Regions from separate parts of the Homo sapiens genome. Here region 2 is linked to region 1. The links come from fine-mapping of genetic effects on gene expression. Tissue or cell type: blood mononuclear cells. Region 1 holds a variant in brackets; the other region holds the start of a gene. All regions are shown on one strand. Distances are from middle to middle.

Evidence for each region. PIP is the estimated chance that this variant, and not a neighbour inherited with it, causes the effect.
Region 2: LINC02391 starts here. The variant in region 1 is fine-mapped to the expression of LINC02391 in blood mononuclear cells (TOPMed, PIP above 0.99).

What each region holds. Positions count from the first base shown.
Region 1 is chr12:92,283,939-92,292,047 of GRCh38, reverse strand. All of the region lies in intron 2 of LINC02391 (long intergenic non-protein coding RNA 2391), which reads left to right. Among named protein-coding and RNA genes, the nearest start is that of LINC02391, 76 kb to the left of the region's middle. The variant A/G (reference allele first, on the strand shown) is at 3,530.
Region 2 is chr12:92,358,838-92,366,944 of GRCh38, reverse strand. LINC02391 (long intergenic non-protein coding RNA 2391) reads left to right here and starts at 3,113. Exons shown (of 5, transcript XR_007063404.1): 1 at 3,113-3,354. The region is part of intron 1 of LOC105369902 (a long non-coding RNA gene); the gene reads right to left. RefSeq lists enhancers at 3,511-3,560, 4,041-4,130.

The DNA.
Region 1 (8,109 bases):
CCCAGTTCTGATTTTTTTTTTTTTTTTTTTTAGGCTAGCATTGATTTTCAAGCATTGGAAGGAATTGGTGAGGGTTTTTGCTAATTAGCAGGGAGGCCAAGCACACCGCTCTTGGCTGCGCCACAAGGAGGTGGTTGCCTGTGGTTTGGGATATTCTTTTCCTCTTCACTGCAGTCTCTGGGATGGTGGGTCTTGTCTCTAAGCAGCTGGAATGAAGGCAGAACGTATATCCCATCATTTGGAAGCAGCATGCATTCAGGTTCTCCTAAATGATCTCTAATAAACATCAAGGCGGGCCCCATTCCTGTGATGTGTATCAGTTTGGGTAAATAAATGCATTTCCTTCAGGATTTCATAAATTTTGATCATAGTGCTTCCTGGGTTTGTCAAATCTAAAAGTTTTAATTATTCTTTTCTGTTCTTACAGGGCTATCTCTTCATCCACTTCATCCATTCAGTGACCCTTTCCTGTACTTTTCAGCTCTGTTCTCTTTGATGAGTTAAAATGAGAGGGCAATGGAGTATAATGGGTAACTTCAAGATCCTAGGAATATGCAAGTCCAGAGCATATTGTTTCCTCATCATTAAAATCAGAAGAATAACAACATGCTCTTTACTGGATTGTTGTAAGGATTAAATAAATTAACATGTGTAGCTATTAGAAGAGAACCTAGTCTGTACAAGCATAAGCGTGATAATCTGAACACACAAACAGAACTAGATAGCTGAGTTTTTCTCTTCTTTATACAAACGTTTTGGAAACTGTTATCTATGCATTTGATAGAAATGTGATTCTAGATTTTTCTGAATCTAGGTGCAGTTGATTCCATCTTCCAGGATGAGATATGTAGTAACCTCACTGTCTAGCCTTAAAGTGGTAGCTGCTCTAACATGTTGACTTTGCACATCATATGTAAAGAACCACACTATTAATCTTACTGAAAACCACATTCATTGTTTATTCAAGCCTGCTCTCATCCAGGCACTTCATTAGGCGGTGAAATTTCAAGAATAAACCAAAGTCTTCACCCTTTGAACCTTACAGTCCTGTTCATAGTTATGTACTATTTATTGCTGTGTAACAAATTACCCTAAAACTTAGCTACTTAAAACAACAAACATTTATCTCACACAGTTTCTGGGGGTCAAGAATCCAGGAGCAGTTTAACTAGGTAATTCTAGCTCAATGTTTCTCACAAAGTGGTACTCAAACTATTTACTGGAGCTACAGGATCAACTAGGCTGGAGAATTTTTTTCCGAGCTTCCTCACCTGATTATTGGCAAGCCTCAATTTCTTGCTGGCTGTTGGAGGCAGGTCCCTATTCCTCACCATGTGAGCATCTCCACAGGCTGTTAGAGTGACCTCAAAACATGACAGCTGGCTTCCCCCAGAGAGAGTAATCCAAGAGAGAGAACGAATGAGAAAGCACCCAAGATGGAAACTGCAGTCTTTTATAGCTCAATCTTGGAAGTAACATCCCATCATTTCTACCATATGTCATTGGTCACACAGATCCTGGTAGCATGTAGGAGGTGGACACACAAGGGTATGAATACAGCAGATAGGGACCATTAGAGACTAACTACCACACAGTGATTGAGAGTCATAGTTTTTTGTGAGTCATTGGTCAAAGGAGACAGATGGGTCAGAGATTCTGTTCCATGCTTTTTATTTGAAAACCCAGCCTCCCATCATCAAGAGGCTCCTCTAGTGCCCTTGATGCTCTCCACCTGATCCTCTGTATCTTGCCAGAAGGTCAGGAGCACGGGAAAAGCACAAGTATAGGGAAATGCACCATAGATTCAAGGGGCTAGACTTGAATGGAGATTGTAAGCATTATTTTGCCCCACATTCCATTGCCAGAAATCACCTAATTGAAAAGGAAGCTGAGCAATACGGTCTGTATGTGTCCCCAGATTAAAAAGGAATGAAATTTGGTGAATGCACAAGTCACTCTGCCACTCCCTGTAGCTGAAAAGAGGCTGTACGTTTAAGCAGTTTACATTTTTTTAAAAAAATGATTCTGTTCAGTTTTAATACAACAAAAATATGATTGCTCACCATTCTGCAACAAAGCAACTGATTGATTGCGTATTTTCACCTTTTCAATGCATTGTAAATGCAGCCCCTGTTAGAGGCCAGTAAGCAGGTGGTGGAGAGTAGTTCCTGAACCATTAAGTTTGCTGCTTTTTCAGGAATACTATTAAGATGCTGGCAGAAACAAGTCTTGCCTTGTTTCCCAAGTGCGGAAAAAAGAAAGTCTTTGTTCCCAAGCAAATGAAAATACAAATCACAAGACTAAAATTATGAATGCAAAACAATATATTAAAATGTGGCTTGTGTGTAGCATTTGCATGCATTTTAATATGCATCTGTCTTTCCCTTTGCTAAATTCAGTAGGCTCTGAAAATATTAAACAATGGAGTACAATTAATGATTAGAGGAATTGTTTTGGAATATATTTTAACCTATTTATATTCCTATTGCCAAACCTCTTGCTCTTTAAGGGCTCTGAGATGTCCAATGAGATCATTTTATTGGTCAGATCTCATATCACTGTAGCCTAAAAACAATTCACAAAAATATTTTTTATAAATTGACGTGATAACGCTCAAATGATTGTAACATGATTAAAACCATTCCCAGGATAGAAAAATCAAATCCAAATTTGGAAGCTGGAAAAGGCTTTAGAGATCCTTTGGATTGGATATTCTCATCCCTCCTACTCATTCCAAAGTCTGGCTATATTTATTTCCAAAGAACCCATAAGAAATTTAAGGCCATTTTTTTTTCCCCAAAAAACCCAATTTGCTGAGCCTTCTGCTCCAGTTATCTTTGCAGCTGAAGTTTTCAGAATTGGTTTTGCCCTTTTCTGGGTTTGTTTTCGTTGCTTTCTATTTGAGCAAACCCCCAAAAGGGAAATCACTTTTAGGGCAGTAGCAAAAATGAACCAAATTTCAACCACACTCAGAATTCTTGCTCTCTGCCCATCAAGGCTTCTGGACCAGAGGAGAATATATTTCATGAGAACACAGCTCTAAGCCATAAACTTGAAATACATCAAGCTCTTTGTTGTTAATTGGCGCTTACCTCACCTGAAGGCCTTTGCCAAGAAGAGCAGAGGGGTTTAATGGGGAAGGAAGAAAGGAAAAAGCCTGAAGTCCTGGAAAACACTCCAAGCCACATGTGATTTTAGCTGGGGGGCTCTCCACTCCCCAGTATGCTGGCGCAACAAAGTGGCCTATGTGCTCTCTCAGCCCTCGGCTGTTTGTTTGGGGGGCAATGCGCAGACTGGGGCCTGAGTGATAACTGCTTCGTGTAATTACGAAGACAGCTTGAAAACTATGCTCCTCTTTGTTTCAGCCTCCAGATGACGGCTGTCTGACTGCTGTTTGTGCCAGTTTTATTTCAAAGCGCTTTTCTTTCCATATTTCAAAGGTCAGTGTGTTTACCGTGGCCAAAAAGAGCCTGTGTGTAAGAGAAAGAAATCCATGTGGCTGAGTGGCAGGAGAACCAGAAGAGGAGTT[A/G]GGGAACTGGATTCGAATCCTAGCTCAGCTTCTAGGTAAGTTAGAGAACTAAATGAGTTGATCTCTTCTCCTTTAGCATTGAAAGGGGAGGAAGGAAGTAGTACTAGTGGCCTTATTTTAGATTAAAAAAAAAAAAAAGGCCGGGCGGTGGCTCACGCCTGTAATCCCAGCACTCTGGGAGGCCGAGGCGGGCGGATCACGAGGTCAGGAGATCGAGACCAGCCTGGCTAACACGGTGAAACCCCGTCTCTACTAAAAATACAAAAAATTATCCGGGCATGGTGGTGGGCACCTGTAGTCCCAGCTACTCTGGAGGCTGAAGCAGGACAATGGTGTGAACCCGGGAGGCGGAGCTTGCAGTGAGCCGAGATCGCCACTGCACTCCAGAGCCTGGGCAACAGAGCAAGACTCCGTCTCAAAACAAAACAAAAAAACCTAGAAGTGTGGTTCTCAAAGAAGACGTGTAGTTATTTCCAGTAAAGAAACACTATCAAACACTCAACTGAGAAAATGTCCACTTCATCTCCGTGAAATGGAAATATTTCCTCCCTCAGAGAAAGCAGGCTTGATATTTTGGCCACCCTTGGAAATCTTGAGATTGTTTTTGGTCAAGGAATTTTAGCACTGGGAACGAATAGCAAACCCCAAACCCTTTCTCAGGACTCTTAGTTGGCTTTCTGACGCCATTACTTAGAAAAACAAGGCTGGTTAGACTGAGTTACCTCCCCATATTTAAGACATTAGTGTTTTTATTATGGATATTTGAAAACAGCATCAGATTTCAATGGTGTAAGCTCCATACCTATTTCTCTTTTTTATTTTCTAAATTTTTAAAATGAAGTGGGGTCATTTGATCTCTTATCAAATCAGTTGGAGACTGGTTTTTTTCCTTTAACTTTTATTTTTTTTCTCTTGAGACGGGGTCTGACTCTGTCACCCAGGCTGGAGTGCAGTGGTGCCATCTTGGCTCACTTCTACCTCCACCTCCTGGGCTCAAGCCATCCTCCCGCCTCAGCCTCCCAACCCACCACACCCAGCTAATTCTTTTATTAATATTTTTTGTTGAGACAGGGTTTCACTATGTTGCCCAGGCTGTCTTGAACTCCTGAGCTCAAGCAATATGCTCACCATGGCCTCCCAAAGTGCTGGGATTACAGGCGTGAGCCACCGTGCCCAGCCCATACCTATTTCAGATGCTCTTCGTGATTCATTTTCTTCTAATATGTTTTTCCCATCTATCTTGCTCAATTTTTATAGAATGAGCTCCTGGGAAAAGGAGGTAAATAAGCTGTTGAAGTGGTAGAGAGCCTGCGTTCTGAAGCTACATTTGCCTAGGTTCACATGTTAATACTGCCACTTTGCTATGTGACCTCGGATAATTTGCTTAACTTTTCTGTGCCTCATAGTTTTCTTGTCTACTAATGTAAGTACTTACTTTATGGTGTTGTGAGGATTAAATGGATTAACCCACGTGAAATATGTAGAACAGTGTCTGGGACTTCATAAACATGCAAATGTTGAGCTAATTATGAAAAACACTCCTTTCCGAAATGAATTCTGCACTGGGAAAATTCTTCTCTTTTGTGCTACCGTTTCTCTTCTTGAATCGATCCACCTACATCTGCAGAAGTAAAAAAGTAAATTTGCAAATGCCAAGGGAACAGTGCCTGTGTTGTAAAAGAGAGGAGAAAGTAAAACAGAAAAAAAGAACAAAGGAAATATCTTAAATGTTATTCCCCAATTACTGTGAATTTTCAGCCTCCTGTGAAATAAAGATACTTTCTGCCTTGAGTTTGCACAAGACAAAAAGAATTCTCACTCCTTGACCAGAAAAAAAGCATGACCATCCTTGGCTGTGACTCAAGAAGAATGGAGGAAAGCACAGGAAGGGGAACTAAAGTGTATTGAAGACTTTGTCTACACCCTGGATTTGAATTCATGAGTTGAATACCATTGATTTTATAAGCAAATCAAACTTGATTTTATAATCAACGAATCAAAGAAAAAAAAGGTTCAGGGAGGTGAAGTGGCTTTTCAAGGTCGAGCCAGTCAGTGGCATGGCTGGATGTAAGCCCACTTCTACGTGATGCCAAGGCCCCTCATTTTGCCTCCTTCTTACATCCCCTTCTTAGGAGGAACCTGGCTAAGATGGAGTTCTGAGAGGCTCCCAGGAGTGTAGGCTGAACCTAGACTCAAGGTAATCCATTACTACACAGGCAGTATTATAAGCAAGATGCTCTTGTATTTTTTCTAAGTCATTTATATGCCCGTTCAAATGAGTAGACTCATAGGGGTCTTTGTTTTGAATCACGTAATTTTAGGCTTCAAGGAGAGGGGAACCTTCAGAAAAGTCATTTCCGTTCACTTCTAAAGTGAGAATAGTTAAGTTATACCCACTTTAAAGATGCCTTCTAGCTCTCACTTAAAAAATTCTATGTTATCCAAAGCAACTTATGAATAAGGTACTGCCTCAGTTTCTTATTGCTGCTATGTAAATTAGTCCAGACTTAGTGGCTTAAAACAACACAGATTTATTATGTGAAATTTATGGTTCTGGAGGTCAGAAATCCAAAATGGGTCTCACTGGACTAAAACTAACGTGTTGTCAGGGCTGCATTCTTCCTGTGGGCTTTAGGGGAGAATCTATTTTCTTGACTTTTCTAGAATCTAGAGGCTGCCTGCATTGCTGGGCTCATGGCCTCTTCCCATCTTCAAAGCCAGCAATGGCCAATCAAGGTTTTCTCACATTATACCACTCTGACATTGACTCCTCTGCCTCCCTCTTCTACATTTAAGGAACCCTTGTGATTCTACCCAGAAAATCCAGATTAATCTTATTTTAGGTCAGCTGATTATCATGCTTAATTCCATCTACAACTTCATTTCTCCTTTGGCGTGTAATATAATATATCCACAGATTCTAGATATGGACATCCTTGAGGGGCCATTACCTTGCTGACCACAGGTACCTACATGATGTTGTCAACAGGATGCATCTTTAGTATTTGAGCTCTGCCACATTCTAGTGGCCTAACGTGGACAAGTTACTTAACCTCTCTGTGCCTCAGTTTCCTCACATGCGGATAATAGCAGTATTTATGGGGTTGTTATGAAGATTAAATGAATGAATACTTTTAGGACACTGCTGGATGATTAAGTCCTAGCTCTTATTATTATTATTATCTTTGTGATTATTGTTTTGAAGATGATGTGGACAACCAGAACATAATTTATGTAATTTATGCAGCTAGTTGATACATTGATTTCAAGATAAATTGTTTTGCTATGTGCCAGAGGCAGTTGCTATCTGTGACTTCTCCTTGTCTCCTCTTTCCCTCTATTGGCCAGCAATCTGAAGGCCACTCCCTCTGATAACTTCTGCCATTGATTCAGCCACTGGGATGGCCCAGAGAGGACAACAGTCTAGAAGTGTGCAAACATGCATCAAAGATGTTATGCTAACAGAAACAACAGGAGCAATGACATAGGCATTGTCTTTTTATTCATTTGGGAGTTTCAGTCTGAAGAAATGTTGAGGTCAGTATCAGACTAACTTAATGTCAATCCTCTGGTTCAAAGCTTCAATACAGAAATGCTAACATTGTCTCCTCTCTACTACAGGCAGGGTAAGCTTTAGATCGTCACCAAAAATTGGCCGGGGTTCAAATCCAGGCTCCAGCTGTTGATAAATTTGTGTCCTGGTATAGATTAAGATGGGCAGGCCCTTAAGGATAAGAGAACACAAAATTCCCATAGAGAATTTTTTTTTTTTTTTGAGATGAAGTCTCACTCTATCTCCCAGGCTGGAGTGCAATGGCACGATCTCAGCTCGCTGCAGCCTCCGCCTCCCAGGTTCAAGCAATTCTTCTGCCTCAGCCTCCTAAGTAGCTGGGTTTACAGGTGCGTGCCACCATGCCCAGCTAATTTTTGTATTTTTAGTAGAGACGGGGGTTTCACCATATTGGCCACACTGGTCTCGAACTCCTGCCCTTAGGTGATCCACCCTCCTCAGCCTCCTAAAGTGCTGAGATTACAGGTGTGAGCCACTGCGCCTGGCCGAGAGTATTTTTATATGAAGAAGTCCTCTTCTGTCAATGTGAGGGGAGTTAACTCAGGTGGATTATGAGTCAATGCCACCTCTAGTCTTACAAACCATTATTTTCTTTAGGGCAAAGCCCATAGGGGGATACCTTTCAGGTTTGTTTGTTTGTTTGTTTGTTTAATTCAACTGATGGATTCAAAATGCTCCTTGTGAAGTTTTGGGGCTCACCTCAATTGTGACCTGGGTAAGCTGCAGGTTTGATAGACTACTAAAGTTTGGCCAAACCCTAAGTAAGCCAGAACTGAGCCCAAACTCCAAGTAAGCTGCAGGGATTCTGCTGTCCCATCTTTATCCTCCCATAGTCTGATGAAAATCTCTTTTATAGATTCAGTCTGAGTCCATTTTCCTCATCTCTAGTTGCAAAACTTCTTCATGGAGATAGAAAGAACTTGGGCACATGAATTCCATCTTGGTCATGACCTTGACACCACCCCTACTCCCTTCTTCACTGCCTTGGAGCAAACGTGGCCCATGTGGA
Region 2 (8,107 bases), 75 kb before region 1:
AGGCAAATCTGTACTTTTCAAAATTTTATTTTTGAAAAGAAAGGTACAGTCTACAGAATCTTTCATTCCTGATTCGATCATACTCAACCCATTGGCCACCTGCTATTGTTGAAGTGGAATTCAATTGCAATATACTGAATTCAAAAAGTCAATATCCAGGTATTTTGATATTTTTATAATCTAAAGATCCAGTCTCTAGGTAACAATTAGAGAGGACCCAGAGACCCAGAGCTCCAATCAAGAAATATTGACCAGAAACTCAGAAGGGTGAGTTTCTCATCTTCTGTTTCCCCACTGACTCAATGAAAAATGTTACCTGGATACTACTGAAATTCCAAATAACTACATGCTGCACCACTAAGGACAGCAACTGCTTTTTTCCAGAATAATCAGGTTGTCATCAAAGTAGAAGGCTGCTGAAATGGACAGCAAGCAACACGCACACACACACACACAATATCACATATTTTGTTCAGAAAGACATAGGTCTGGGTTTTGGGTTCAGAAAGACCTATGCCAACACATTATTAGGTTTTTAGAAATATTCTATGGATCAATGAATAGAGAGAGAATTTATTCTTCTTGAGGAGTAGGTATTTAAGAAATTAGTAAGGATTAGGAAACTTTTAAAAACATCTCTTTGGACTTACTTTATATGGTTATATGAAACAATGAAATCATTTTTCTGTATAGGAGTCTAATCTCCTTGGGAGTAACATTTTACTACCTGGTTCTATTGCTTTGTAGTTGAGTGTGTATTAAGTCCGATATCTACATACAAGTAACAGGGACAAATGGGTTCCTTTTGTAAATACTCCCTGCCACAGTCTACATTTGTAATCAGACGATCAATATGGTTAACATGTGCCAACTTCACTGGAGAAGGGTGAGTGAGCCTGGTTGAGATCCATGATACAGGAGAAATAATGTGAAGAAGCTGTATGAATGGGGCCCATTGTTTGTCTGTATTTTAAATGTTCTCATTTTTCACAACATTTTATGGAGAGCTCTTAAAAGGCCTTTATTGATAGAGATAATCATTAAATGTCAGTTTAAAAAGAGGTGTTGTTGTTGTAAATGTAATCCAATCTGCTTTTGCACAGGGCCTTTTTATCCTCGTGTACTGAGGAGTACTTTGCCAACACAATCCTGTCACCAAAATCCAAGATGTCATTCATAGAGGCTTAGAGAACTCCTTTCTAGATTTAAATTTAGAGGCATGGGATATTTATTGGATTAAATAATTTATGTTTAAAAGTTGACATAAATTTTGTACATGACTTTCTTTCTCTGTGACAACTAGACCCTGAATATTTACTCATTAAGTGATCATGTGTTGAGCATCTACTATACACCAGGTGCAGTGCTCTGTAATGTGATAAAAAAGCTAAAGTCCTTACCTTCAAAAGACAGAAATAGGCATGCAAATAAGTGGATGACAATGCAGGGTGACAAGTGCAATGTAAGGAACCTGTGCAAGCTAGCGAGTTTGAATAGAGCATTGATTCTCAAAACCTGATCCCAGGACCAGCAGAATCAGCCTTATCTGGGAACTTGTTAGAAAGGCAAATTCTCACTGCAAAAAATAAATAAATAAATAAATAAATAAATAAAATAAAATGACATGCATGTAAGGTAATGCGTATATTAGTTAGCTTGATGTAGCCATTCCACAATGTGTACCTATATTAAAACATTGTTGTACACCATAAATAGATAAAATTTTTGTCTGTTTTAAATAAATTTTTTTAAAAAAGGAAATAATGTGAATACTAATAGTAAAAACATCAGCAAATCCCTTAAAAAACAAAAAACAACAACAAAAAAAACTTGGTATGCAACAAGATCCAAAAACATAAAAGTAAAACAAAACAAAACAAAACAAAACAAAAGAGAAAACAAAATAAGAAAGAAATACAAATTCTCCAGAGCTACTGAATTCTACACTCAGGGGGTGGACCCTGCAATCTGTGCCTTAACAAGCCCTCCAGCTGTTTCTGATGCCTGCTCAAGTCTGAAAACTGCTGGCCTTAAGCAGTGATTGGCAAACTCTGGTGCAGATTAGAATCACCTGGGGAGCACTTAAAACTCCCAGGGCTCAGGCCACATCCCAGACCAATTAAATGAAAAACACTGGAGGGAGATGAAGCGGTGATGTCTGCACCAGTTTTTAAAAGTCAAATAAGATATTTCCAGGAAGACACAGTAAGAAGGCATTTCTGGCAGAGGGAAGAGTCCACAAAGGCACAGAAGCATGAAACAGCTCTGTATTTTGGAGGTAAAATCAACACTATTACTGAAGCATAAAATTTAAAGGGGTGGCCAGGCATGGTGGCTCAAGCCTGTAATCCCAGCACTTTGGGGGGCCGAGGCAGGCGGATCACTTGAGGTCAGGAGTTCGAGACCAGCCTGGCTAACATGGCGAAACCCCGTCTCCACTAAAAATACAAAAAAAATTAGCCAGGCGTGGTGATGCGTGCTTGTAATCCCAGCTACTCGGGAGGCCGAGGCGGGAGAATTGCTTGACCCCAGGAAGTGGAGGTTGTAGGGAGGCGAGATTGTACCACTGCACTTCAGCCTGGGCGACAGAGTGAGACTCCGTATCAAAAAAAAAAAAGTTTAAAGGGGACAGTAGACAGAGGTCAGTTCACAAGGAGCCTCCAGGCTGCTACTGCGTGGAGGATGAATTGAATCTTACTTATAAATATATTTTGTCTGTTTTTTATTGGAAAACTGGCTTGGGTTCCATTTTGCTACCTACCCATCTTGCGTCCTGGTGTTGACTTTCCTATCAAAACCATTCCTCTGAGCTGAGGCTGTTTATAATTAAGATCAGTGATTATCTAGCACTCGACAAAACTCAGCCACTGCTGCTCTGAGCGGAAGGAGAGACAGACTTAGTAGCAGATAACTCAGAAAAGAGGATCTGAGACAAAGCAAAGGAGCTACAGAAAAGGAAATGGTTGCTTTAGCTTTTTATTCCACCCTCCCCCCGACAGCTGAATCAGGGAGCGACTCTGGAATAAGTGCATCTGCCCTTTAAGAAATCAAAGCCAGACTCAGGAAGTGGGTGGGAAGCCTTCTAAAGAGCCTCAGCTGCCGCGTGCCTTCTGTCTGCTGTGGGCCCAGCAGCTGCACAGACCCCTCTTGTTGGGAGACAAGACAGGGCTCTTTCTCTCCCGTGACCTCAGCCTCATCTCCAATCGTGGGGAAGAGAGAAACTGAAATTCTTCCTGTGACTGAACACATGAGAATGCAACAGTTACTTGGGGTAACAGGTTTCCTGTGGGTCCTGTGTGAAGAGTATGCATTCATTCCAGTGTCGGGGAGGGGAGAAGAATGAGGAGGAGGCAGGTGCGTTCCATTCTTTGATTTGTATAATACAAATATTTCCAGAGGACAAAGATGGGCAGAAGCTTTAAGCAACAGCCATCTTCCATCTCGACAGAGGGAACCATGGTGGTTGAACAAAGCACCTAGCACCCTCTGCCTGCCTCTCCTCCCTTCCACCTCCCCTTGAACATTTTTAGGTTTTCAAATGTAATAAAGAAGTCTACTGTTCCAATGGGATTCAAGGTCAGCTCTAACTAGGTGTTCACATTCATAGCCTGCTGACCAGATCAGAGGCAGTTTAATAAAGCAACTGTAAATCAGCTATGAAGATGGTGAACACCCCGGCCTGTACTAACTTTATGAGGTTCAAGTCTCTATTTTTGATACCCCATGAAATAGGGAGAAGTCGGGGATGCATGTGTTTTGGATAGATGAGTTAGCAAGTTGAGCCTGAGATTGTGGTGAGCAATTTAGGCACAACTTCAAGGTCAGCCTCGTTTGAAAGGGGAGGGGAGGCAGTTCTCTCCTGAGGGAATTTGTTAAGGAGCTCATCACTTGTTTCTGAATTGAGCTCTGTCGGCCATCTCAGCATCATCTGACACCTGCACACATCATATCATGTGATACACTTGGGAGAAAGGGCCAGGTCAATTTCCTCCTGGTGGGTGATTTGGTTTTCCTCTTCAGCTAATGTTTAATGTTTCTCTTTTGATTTGCATGTGGAAGCCTTACTCTATGCTAAGCTATGATAAGCACTTTACATGCCAATATGACAGCATAGTCCTTTAACCACGGGCTTTAGAATCACTCTGCCATGTTCAAACCTCAGCTTTAATCATGAAATATACCCAGGTAACAAACCTGCATGTATACCCACTGAATCTAAAAGTTGAAAAAAGTCTCTATGCTACATAAAACAAAAACAAAAACAAAAAAAATCTGAACTGTATCCCTTTGGACAAGTCACCTAATCCAGTCAAACCTGAGTTTTCTTAAATACTAAATAGGAATAGTGATAATAGTGCAGGTACTTGCCAGATTGGGTTAATATGAAGGTTCATAAATTTATTCATGTAACATTCCTACACATAGTATGTACTCAATAACGCTACATACTTTTATTATGAACCATCCTTTTCACAACCTTAGGAAGTATATACTCCTCTCCCTACATGCAAAACAAAACAAAACAAAAGAGAAATTTAGAGACTTTAAGATCTGGCTCAATGTCACAGAACTCGTATGTGGGAGATTCAGGTTTCAGACTCAATTCTTGGGATACAGTCCATGCTGTTAAACATTACACTAGACAGCCTCTACCGAACAATGACTTTTTATTACTTGACTGTTTAAATTCACCTCTCCTCTCCTTCTCAAAATGAGTACCAATTTGTCCTATGCGTAATTTATTCTCGAGCCTTAACGCTTGTTTTCTGCCCTTGTTTGATTCCTTTTCTCAGTTTGCAATTTCACTGTTAGGTTTCTGCATTGTACTCACAACATTTTTGAGTACTGCCTGTTATAAACTAGTCATTTTGCTTCCACATATTCATTCCTAAAGAGAAGACCATTTCTTAAGAAAAAATAGAATAAAGGAGGAACAGATTCTCAGATGTAATCATCATGGTGTGCAATGAATATCTGAGCACTTGCAGGGCCATTGCACTTTCAAATATTCCTTTTCTTGTCTGCATAACAAGGACTCAGCCACACTCTCCTAAAGACAGCTGGCTATAGTAGTCTGGGTGAAAAGCCTGACCATTAGATCTGTGCTTCATAATTCGACAGTGAGAGAACAAAAATGGTATATTTCAAGTTTCAGATATATGTGTGTGCATATGCATATAAATTACATATATTCATATATTTATGTGTGTATATATACACTCATATAATCATGTTGGAGTTTTAGAGATTTAGTTAAGCTCTTGTAGGCTGGACCCACAAACCACAACCATAAACTGAAAAAGAATTCAGCTACCTAACAAACTACTGAATTGAAATAACTGAAATTGAATAATTTTTCTGGGATTATTTAGGTATAGATAATTTGGAAAGTCAATTGTTGAAAGTCAATTACTGCCATATGCTTCTGATATCAAACAGGTTCATTTTAGACCTATAGATCAAATAGGTCCTTCACAACTATGGCAGGAATGGTTTATAATATCCAGCAACGATGAATCTAATGTATATGTGTAAATTTTTGTCAACTGATATGCTGTTTTGTTTGAGTTTCCACTTAGCCACACTGCTGTGGTTTCTTGGGGGTAAGAGCTGTAATACACTCAGACTCCTTATACCCTCTCCAGGGGTATGGTACTTGGCATATGGTTTTTACTCAGTAAATGAAGAAGAATAATGAACTGAAATGCTTTCTCCCTGTTTCCTAAGATGCTACTTAACCAGTGAAAAAGTTACAAGTTACAAAAGTCTTTTTTAAAGCCTTTTCAACTAGATAAAAAACACTTACTACACCTTTTTATGTATAGGCCACTAGCATGTAAATGAAACTGGCACAACAAGGTAAATGTGTATAAAATAAATCACAGAAAAGAGAGTTCTGATGAGATATTTCAGTAATGCAGTAGATAGCAAATGATGATTTTGGAGTATTTTTTGATTTCCCCAATTTAATACTTGATGTTATCAAGTATGTTCACAATGATTATTGTGTCCAAGACGCACCTTAGAAGAATGTAAAGAAGTGTTAGACAAAATATGGGTAACCCATCCCTGCCTTCAGGGAGCTTCTAGACTGATTGCACATAGGTCTGTATTTACATAATTATCAAGTTACAGATCTTGTTTCTTGTCTGTGAAACTCTAACCATATTCTAGAATCAGACATAGCATCACTTCCTGTATTAGTCTTCACAAACAGAACTCTTACTGTCTGTACTGTGCTCTTTACTTTTTAACGTTAGTTCTTCTAGGTTGCATCAAGAATTCAGGAAAACCACATAGGAGGAGGCCCAACATTTTCTGGGTGTTTAATGTGTGAACCTACTTGATAACATCAATTTTTAAACAGCTCCCCATTGATACAGACTCTGAGCTACTTACCCTTTCTCTAGCTGCTCTGCAGGACTCCATATTTTATGCATGGGGACAGTGATCACAAAGTTAGAAGGTACCAGGAATGGCATGCCCATTTACAGATGTACGATAGCCTTTCAGCAATCACAGGTATATCACAGTGATAATTTCTGGAGGATAAACTGGGGAAATTGAAAATTCTACATTGGGGCTCTAAAATACTCCAAAATCATCATTTGCTATCTACTGCATCACTGAAATAGCTCATCAGAGAAATCTATCTCTTCTGTGATGTATTTTATACACATTTACCTTGTTGTGCCAGTTTCATTTACATGCTAGTGACCTATACATGAAAAGGTATAGTGCCTGTACATAATAAATTTTTATGACTGGCTAAATTATTTGAAGACCACAGATATGCTGCATCCACTCCTAACCCTTATGAAGGAACAACTGTTAGGTTCTGAAACTATATACACTATTTGCTTTAAGAGACTACAGTATAGGAAGTCCTGAAATGTACCACAGAGTATGAATAGGTTGTGAATTATATATTATGCTGAAGCTTAATGGGTACTGTAGCCGAGGGCAAGATATCTCATAACTAATTATATTCATTTTGCATTTAGCAGTACATTCGAAGTACAGATATTAAAAATGTGTAAGTTGAACTTCTGTTAAAATTACTCTCCCTAAGGAAAATAATTCTCTTTTCTTGCTATACTTTAGGCTACACTTACAGGCTGCCAAAACACTTCATTTGATTTAAGAAAAAGTCTGTCCAACTGTTGTCAAGGATCATGTAACAATGAGTTGTTTTGCTTTTTGGTTTTTTTTTTAGCCTTGTAACTGTACATTTGTGTTCTGGTGACCCAGCCTCAGGCTGCTTGAGAGAGATAGAATTAAGAGTTGATTTAAATAGTGAATGAAAAGGAGAATATGCATTCATACAGAGCTTTGGTGTTTGGAACACTTTCACATACATTATCTCATTTAATTCTCCCAAAGGCTCTACAGATAGAGGTACTATGATTATCCCTGATTTTCAGATGAGATTTTATTTGAAGAGAAGGAGTAATGGAGGTTAGGATTCAAACATAGGTGTTCTGACTCCAAATCCTGGTCTTTTCTAGGATTTCCAAAATCCTGAAAAAAGGAACGTATTTCTAAAATTCAGTACGTGCCGGGATAAATCTTTGTCAGACTACATTTGCTATCTGATTGTTGATGCCATAATGCCACTGTAGGTTAGTTTTCTCTTAATGTGTCATGTGTATAAACCAGAATTCTAAGTCTGAGGTTCTCTAAAGGATCTTCTCATGTTTCAGATGTCAATAGGAACTATTCGAATCTAAGGAATCAGGGAAACAGTATGGCATTTATTAGTAGCCTCAGAGTCTTCTTTCTAAGGCTAGAAGTAAGAAGTATCTTTAGTTCTGGACTTGATCTGCAATTTTTCTTGCAATGGGTCAACAGGGACAACCAGTTGTTGTGGACAAAGCAATGGAATTGCGACTTTAGTGAAGCTTGAAATACTTTTTCAATAGGAAGTGACTTAAGTTCACATAAGCCAATATTCAAATGGTGTCTAAAGTGTGCAGGACACTGTGGAGATGTTAAATGGAAGTGGGGAGGGACATACATCTTCTTTTGCCCAGAACAATCCTGATTTATGCCAGTTGCCCTAGTGCCCTGTCTGCTTAGAGCCACTGACCTCTTCATTCTCAAAAAT